Regions from separate parts of the Homo sapiens genome. Here region 1 is linked to region 2. The links come from fine-mapping of genetic effects on gene expression. A gene starts in region 2. The other region holds a variant in brackets. All regions are shown on one strand. Distances are between the middles of the regions.

The links. PIP is the estimated chance that this variant, and not a neighbour inherited with it, causes the effect. A credible set is the group of variants that fine-mapping cannot tell apart.
Region 1: its variant is the best candidate, but not a certain one, in a credible set for the expression of MAML2 in lymphoblastoid cells (GTEx, PIP 0.74).

The regions. Positions count from the first base shown.
Region 1 is chr11:96,248,949-96,253,344 of GRCh38, reverse strand. The region is part of intron 1 of MAML2 (mastermind like transcriptional coactivator 2); the gene reads left to right. Among named protein-coding and RNA genes, the nearest start is that of MIR1260B, 90 kb to the left of the region's middle. The variant A/G (reference allele first, on the strand shown) is at 1,821.
Region 2 is chr11:96,341,309-96,345,701 of GRCh38, reverse strand. It overlaps MAML2 (mastermind like transcriptional coactivator 2), which reads left to right and starts at 2,507. Exons shown (of 5, transcript NM_032427.4): 1 at 2,507-4,319. The coding sequence starts at 3,807. It overlaps MIR1260B (microRNA 1260b), which reads right to left and starts at 4,264; the gene lies at 4,176-4,264. RefSeq lists silencers at 2,324-2,513, 3,631-3,890.

The DNA.
Region 1 (4,396 bases), 92 kb after region 2:
CTTGGCATTGTCATGTTAGAGCAGCACATCTCAGATGGCTTTCAATAGTTATTTTAGCATTGATTTTCCTCTACTAGAGTAAATCAAAAGATGATTTAGAAAATCAAAGTCAGTTTTCCTTGGAGTTTTCTCAGAATAAAGGGAAGCTGTGGTGTTGAAGGGTTTTTTTGGCTCCTATTTACATATGATGCAAAATCAATCTGTGTGAATCTCTTTCCTCTGTTGAGCTCTACTATAGGCTCTACTATATGCAGAGCCTTGGGTATTTCTGTGCGAGGGGGATTATGCAAAAGAATTTTAAGGCATGCCACTTGACTTTGTGAAACCAAGTATTTGTTTAAAGAGACACGATATTATAGTGGGAGGCTGTTTTGTGAGAACCCACACTTTCATGTCAGCACCCTGAGATGGGATCCCATTACGCCCTTTAACCAGGCAAGGGACTTTATGCAGTTCTTCGTCAGGAAAATGGAGACAATTAAACTGCTTTTCTCATAGGTTGTTGTGTAAAAGGCAGCAAGATGTGGCTGTGTAAGAACATGACTGAAGCCAGACTGCTTATGCTTAAAACCTAGGTGAGCTGTTTACACCTGATATGACCTTGGACAAGTCTCATCTAACTTCTCTTGCCTCAGGTGCCTCATCTGAAGATAGCAGTGATGTTAGTGTCTGCCTCCTGCCTCATAAGCCTGTCATGTTGAGACCATCCTGGCCAACATGGTGAAACCCCGTCTCTACTAAACATACAAAAATTAGCCAGGCATGGTGACACGCGCCTGTAGTCCCAGCTACTTGGGAGGCTGAGGCAGGAGAATTGTTTGAACCCGGGAGGCAGAAGTTGCAGTGAGCAGAGATCGCTCCACTGCACTCCAGCCTCGTGACAGAGCGAGACTCCAGGTCAAAAAAAAAAAAAAAAAAAGAGTTAGTCAAGGTAAAGCGCTGAGAACAATGCCTTGCACAAAACATCACATAAGGGTTTGCTTTCATTATTGTGAGGATTAGATATAATGCATGTGAAATACTTGACACATGTAGAAGGTAACTATTCACTGTTATTTATATAGAGAACTCAGCAAAATGTGTAGTACATTTTCAGAACTTAATGTTGGTTGACTTCATTTTCTATTGTACATGTCTGTGTGTGTGTGGGGTGTGTGTGTGTGTGTGTGTAGAGAGAGAGAAGCACATATTTCCCAACAGCATAACGAGTGTAATTTTATGGGAAAAAGTATTTAGACCCAATTGGAAATTAGCCAGGCCATACAACCAGGAGTGTCTTTGCTACTCCGTCTGGTGTTGAAAGGGTTTGTATTGACTGGGCGCGGTGGCTCATGCCTGTAATCCCAGCACTTTGGGAGGCTGAGGCGGGCAGATCATGAGGTCAGGAGATCAAGACCATCCTGGCTAACATGGTGAAACCCCGTCTCTACTAAAAATACAAAAAAATTAGCTGTGCGTGGTGGCCGGCGCCTGTAGTCCCAGCTACTCGGGAGGCTGAGGCAGGAGAATGGCGTGAACCTGGGAGGCGGAGGTTGCAGTGAGCCAAGATCGCGTCACTGCACTCCAGCCTGGGTGACAGAGTGAGACTCCGTCTCAAAAAAAAAAAAAAAAGGGTTTGTATTTGTGGGCCTCTTTTTTTCTGTTGATGCTTCTCCAACATTCCACCATGGATGGAACCTCTAACACCTCATAACATGTTTGGAAAATTAAAAGGGATAATCACTGCTTATTATTCCTACTACCATAGAAGGTTAAAACATACCTGTCTTTTGGGCTTAGCTAGAACTCTAAATTTAGTAATCCTACTTACTACTAATAAC[A/G]ATACAGGCAGTTTCCAGAGTTTCCAATTTACTTACATAAGTTCTGTCTTCCAAAATTCAGTTATAAAACAAGAATTTGAATCTCACAATACACTTTCCCATAAAAAATGTTATAAGACATAATTAAAACTCAGGCCTACCTATCTAATTATCCCAATACCTTAGAGAAAAAAAATGGTACCGTAGATCACCAATCATGTGTGATTCATAGCACATGCTGTGAATTCTAGCTACAGAGATATCTGAAACACAGCTACCTCCATGAAAATTCTAGGGATGAGAGGCCTCATGCCTGTACTCTACCATCTTTAGTAAAAGACAACATTTTGCGGGACATGATTTTCACTGGGTAACTTCAGCCTCAGTTTTTGGGCAACATCAATGGCAGAAGAGAATGAGGGATGGCGGGGTGGAAACAGTTATTGTTATGTGTATGTAATTGTAAAGACTACTTTATTGCTAGCGATATAAAATTGCTAAAAACTTTGGCATTTGTTTTATTGCTCCCTCTTCTCCCTCACCCCTTACCATCACTCCACAAATCAACCAAAGCCAATGTCCTAAGGGATACTTTCAGTTGTTTCAATTATAGTTCTTCCTGCAGGTCCTCCAAGTATGAAATTAAGAGGCTTTCAAGATGGAGAAATCCTCTTTTTGCAATATGAAGAAAAGAGTTTGTAATGTCATTATCACCAAATAAGTTACTATTAATCCTGAATCAAGTCGTATTTAATTGTTTTGCCAGTCCAAAAAGCCTCCCTATTTAGTCTGTATGCAAGGACAGCCTGGCAGAGAAATTGAACACTTGTCATTTTAAAATGTGTCTATCACTTAATGCTTTACACAGAAGAGAAGGTGATAGTAGCTTCCTTCATGCTCCAGAGCTGCTGGTGTGACATCAATATATTCATTCATTCAAAATTTACTGAGCTTTCACTATGGACCAAGCACTACTCTTCTAACTGCTAGATATAAAGGGATAGGGAGATATTTATTAAATGATACAAAATTACAGCTAGATAGGAGGAATAAATTCTAGTGTTCTTTAGCACTGTAGGATGACTATAGCAAACAATAATATATTGTTTCAACTAGCTAGAAGGCGGATAGTGTATGTTCCCAACACAAATAAATGATAAATGTTTGAAATGATGGATGTGCTAATTATCTTGATCAGAGCACTATGATTATATGTATTGAAACATCACTATGTACCTCATGAATATGTACATTTTTTTCAATTTAAAAAATAAAATTTTAAGAATAAAAAATTTTTAAATTTTAAACATTTTTTTAAATAAAAAAGAAAAGCAGATAATTTGTCTACCAAGCCTAGATGGATGTATACTCATAAACAGGTAATACTGTAGTGTGCCATAGGGTGATAAGTGCCATGGAGGGGATTAATTTCATGCAGAGCGGGCCTGCAGGAAGTAAAGGAGCGAGCCGTGAAACTGTCTGGATAACGAGTTCTCAGGTAGAGGGAATAGCAAGTGCAAAGTCTCTGAGCGAATTGCAGGGAGGCTCTAGCAGGACCAGAGTAAACTAGGTGGGAGTGATGGGAGATGAGTTCTGAGAGGTAGCAGGAACACCTTGTAGGGCTCTGTAGACCAATACGAAGATTTGGTCTTATTCTAAGTAAGACAGGCAGCAAAGTGTTTTAAGCAGAAGTATAAGAAGATCTAGCTCATTTTTATAGGCTTACTCTGGGTCTACATTGTATGGAGATATGTTGCATAGTTTATTGCATAGTTGCACAAGTTGGAAGTGATGGTTGCTTGGAGCTAGTTACTAGCTACTAGCAAGCTAGTAGCAGTAAAAGTGGGGAAAAGTGTGGATTTTAGATATATTTTAAAGTCAGAGCCAAGAGTAGTGCCAATACGTTGGATGTAGGGTGTCAAAGAAAGAACTGAACCAAGGATCACTCAAAATGTGTGACTCGTGCAGCTAGAACTGCCATTTATTGAGCTGGAGGGATATTGTTGGAGTGTCATTTTTGGTTACTGAGGAAAGAAGAGGCGAGAGAACTGAAGTTTCATTTTGGACATTTTAGTTTGACATGCCTATTAGACATCCAAGCGGAGAGGCCAAGTAGTCAGGGGAATAAGTAAGCTGGAATTCATGCGCAAGGGCTGGCTTAAAAGTGTACATTTATGTATTTAAGGCTAGAAGGCTGAAAGAAAACACCTGGAGCAGAAGTATAGCTAAAGAAAAGAAGAGGCGTTTGAACAGAGTGCTAACACTCCAATATCTAGAGGTCGGAAAGATGAAGTGGAAGCAGAAAGGAGACAGAGGAGAAGTGAGGGAGAGAACATAAGAGAAAATAGTGCCCCAAAAGGCTAGTGAAGAAAGAACTTAAGAAGGAGGAAGAGTTTATTTGTCAGATAAAGAGTTTGTTGTCAAATACTGCCAATAAATTAGTTAAGCTGAAGACTGTAATTGATCACTGAGTCAGGTGAAAGTCATTGGTGACTTTCAATCAGTGGTGTCCTGGTAAACTGGCTCTCTGAAAAGCAGTGACAACAGCAAAATCCTGATTTGTAGTGTTTACTAAATTTCCCTGTGGAAATATTCCC
Region 2 (4,393 bases):
CAAAAAGCACATGAAAAAATGCTCATCGTCATTGGCCATCAGAGAAACGCAAATCAAAACCACTATGAGATACCATCTCACACCAGTTAGAATGGCAATCATTAAAAAGTCAGGAAACAACAGGTGCTGGAGAGGATGTGGAGAAATAGGAACACTTTTACACTGTTGGTGGGACTGTAAACTAGTTTAACCATTGTGGAAGTCAGTGTGGCGATTCCTCAGGGATCTAGAACTAGAAATACCATTTGACCCAGCCATCCCATTACTGGGTATATACCCAAAGGACTATAAATTATGCTGCTATAGAGACACATGCACTGGTACGTTTATTGCGGCACTATTCACAATAGTAAAGACTTGGAACCAACCCAAATGTCCAACAATGATAGACTGGATTAAGAAAATGTGGCACATATACACCATGGAATACTATGCAGCCATAAAAATTGATGAGTTCATGTCCTTTGTAGGGACATGGATGAAGCTGGAAACCATCATTCTCAGCAAACTATCACAAGGACGAAGAAACAAACACCGCATGTTCTCACTCATAGGTGGGAATTGAACAATGAGATCACATGGACACAGGAAGGGGAACATCACACTCTGGGGACTGTTGTGGGGTGGGGTGAGGGGGGAGAGATAGCATTAGGAGATATGCCTAATGCTAAATAACGAGTTCATGGGTGCAGCACACCAGCATGGCACATGTATACATATGTAACAAACCTGCACGTTGTGAACATGTACCCTAAAACTTAAAGTATAATAATAATAAAATTTAAAAAAAGAAATAAAAGAAATTATAAAACAAACAAAAAATCTGAGTGTATTTGTCCCCATTTCCAAGCTAACAGGATTGGTGAAAATAAAATGGACTAAAGTAGGCTATCCTATAGGGAACTAAATTGCAAATAAATCCAGTATTGAGATGTTTGCCTTGATTTTGCCTATTTCTATCCATAGCTCAGTTTGAAACGACCATATTCGTGAAATGCCAGAGTTTGTTTAGATTACTGAAGGTATATTATTTGAGACCTCAAATCCAAATGACTTCCAAATTAGGATACCCAGAATATTTTTGGTCCTGACTGTTGCAGTATTATGCTCACCTTAATTTAATCTTCATAATTGAAAATAAGCAGAATCCACAATAAGTTTTTTTTTTTTTTTTGGAGACAGAGACTCACCCTGTTGCCCAGGTTGGAGCGCAGTGGCGTGATCTTAGCTCACTGCGACCTCCGCCTCCTGGGTTCCAGCAATTATCCTGTCTCAGCCTCCCGAGTAGCTGGGATTACAGGCGTATGACACCATGCTCAGCTAATTTTTGTAGTTTTAGCAGAGACGGGGTTTCACCATATTGGCCAGGCTGGTCTTGAACTCTTGAACTCAGGTAATACACCTGCCTTGGCCTCCCAAAGTGCTGGGATTACAGGCGTGAGCCACTGTGCCTGGCCAGGATTGGATATTTTAAAGGTTGGATCACTTGAAAATGGGGGAACAATGATCTGTGTGAGATCTATTTGGTTTCTATTATTAAACTTCTTGAAACTCAGAGCCAGGTGCAGTAGTGGTGAGTACCTGTAGTTCCAGCTACTCAGGAGGCTCAAGTGGGAGGATCACTTGAGCCCAGGAGTTCAACTCCAGCCTGGGCAACATAACAAGACTCCATTAAAAGAAAAAAAAAAAAAAAACTTTTTGAAACTCAGCTGCTACACATTGACTTTCCTCATTGTATATGTGCACCAGGTAGCTAAGGATACTTCAGGTCTTATATTTGGTTTTTCATAGGCAATCATGCATTCCCAAAAAAAAAGCGTTTTTTTCTAGAACTGGTATCGATAATTGTATCATTCTCATAAAATATTTTATTTATCCCAACTGATTTGCCTGTGATCACCCAGACTCACTTATCCAGAGACACACAAATGGGCAGGCAGGTAGACAAACGCTACACCTGCCTGCCCTTTAGGAGCTAACAATGTGATTACCTCTCCTCTCCACGCGCAACCCCTTCCGCCCTCAACACACACATTCATATCTTCCTTATTCTATTAATGAACATTTCCTCGGTGCTCACACAGCTCGTGCTAGGTTGCTCAGTGGTGTCATTTACAATATACTGAAAAATGAAAATGATATCCTCAGCGGGGCGTAATGTAGGGCTGAAAGGGAAAACACATTCCTGGCCCGGAATTTCTTAAACATTTAGAGCTGGTGAAATGGTTGTGTAGAGGTTGGGGAATTTCCCCAGCCTTCCCCGCTTAACCGAGTCTGATGCTGAGCTGAGCCAGGGCAGCTGAGATGCGCAGGGCTTGGGATTTACCTCTTCAGCCACTGGGAGGCCCTCTGCGTTCCCCTTTCCCCGGTGCCTGGCTGCGATTACTCACTCGCGCAGTGGCACCAGCCTTCCACCAGGGAGCCTCGAACGAGCTCTCCCGCCCTCTCCCCGCCCCCCCACCCCCATCTGCAGCTTGCTGGCTCTCTCTTTCTCCTTCTCTGTCTCACTCTCTCTCTTTCTCTCCCTCTCCTATCGGAGCACAATGAAAGCCTGTGTATCGCCGTGACTCCGGGCGCGAGCCAGTGTCAGCAAAGCGGCTAACAACAGACGAGAAAGAGAAAGGAAAATACAAGCTACTTTTTTTTTCCATCTATAAAGCGGAGCAAATACAGGAGATAGAACCAGATTGCTTATTGCGAGTCCAGACCCTCAGATCCACTGGCCGGGGATGGAATGTACAAAAGTGGACAGAAAAGTGGCTGGACATGACTCGGTGCAATTTGCTGGAAGTTTGTAAGTTTGACCATCGTTTGTAAATTACTCTCGGAAGAGTTTGTCTCTCTTGATACTGTATTAGAATAGAGCCGGGGGTGAGGAATAGAAACGTAAGCGGGAAAGAAAAAAATGTGTTGAAGGATCTCTCTCAGTGGCTAGCGACTTAAGATTGCTTTTCATTTAAGGCTAGGAAACCTTAGAGGGAGTGAGGATTTTACCGGTGATTGGATTAGCTGAAGAAAAAAGCATGGTCCAAAAGTCCAATTACTGACATTGTTAACAGTTGAAAAGCTGTCTCCCTCTTTTGGGAGAAGACAACATCCTACAGTACCCCAAAGAGGAGAAAACACCGGAGCGAAAGGAAAGGGAGGAAAAATTAAAAGCCAAAAGACAGTCTCCCTTGATTTTTGCACATTTTGAACAGTGACTTAAACATCTTCTGAAACAGCACTGTTTTGTTTTGTTTTGGTTTTTTATTTAACCTGAGGAAAAGTCAAGGCTGCTGGTTACATAGACATGGTAGAAATGTGTTTCTCTGCAGAAACATCCCCATAAAGAATTGTCGGAAACAACTAGGTGAGGGGGAGTCCTCTCTATTAATACCTCTCTCAATACCTTTTGCTGTGTGTTTCTGTCTCTTGCTGGACAATCCCTGAATTCTTGATCTAACCCCCAGATCGTGTGTTTACAAAGTACCTAGTGGCTCTTGTCAGCTTGGTGGAGGAAAAAAAATCCACCAACTCTGTCCAACTTCTCCAGAGCTGTCAAATGCAATTAGAGTAAGTTAATCAGGGTTTGTTTCCAACTTATCCTCCCCCCAGTTGGTTTCTATTCTTTCTCCCCACCCTCTTTTTACTAACTCCCCTCCCCCACAACTTCTCCACGGCTCCCCCACAACCTCTGAAGACCTCTATTCATGTGGCCCTGAACACTGAGCTCACATTGTCAAAAACAGACTTGCCTGCAATAGCCAGCAGTAGCCTCTTTCCACCTCACCATCCCAGAGGCAGCAATCATTGTGTCCGGTAAGATGGGGGACACAGCGCCCCCGCAGGCCCCCGCAGGAGGGCTAGGGGGGGCCTCTGGGGCGGGGCTCCTTGGAGGGGGCTCAGTCACCCCGAGAGTGCACAGTGCTATCGTGGAGCGCCTCCGGGCTCGGATCGCTGTCTGCCGCCAACACCACCTGAGCTGTGAAGGACGATATGAACGAGGTAGGGCCGAGAGCTCAGACCGGGAAAGAGAAAGCACCTTGCAGCTCCTGAGCCTTGTACAGCATGGCCAGGGGGCAAGGAAAGCTGGCAAACACACCAAGGCCACCGCCACTGCTGCCACCACTACAGCCCCTCCACCGCCCCCTGCTGCCCCTCCTGCGGCCTCCCAAGCAGCAGCAACAGCAGCCCCACCGCCCCCACCAGACTATCACCATCACCACCAGCAGCACCTGCTGAACAGTAGCAATAATGGTGGCAGTGGTGGGATAAACGGAGAGCAGCAGCCGCCCGCTTCAACCCCAGGGGACCAGAGGAACTCAGCCCTGATTGCGGTAAGCACCTGGCTTTCTCATGGTTCTGGCTGTGGTCCTGTGACCTTTTGTGAGGGTAGAGTTTGCTTTGGCCT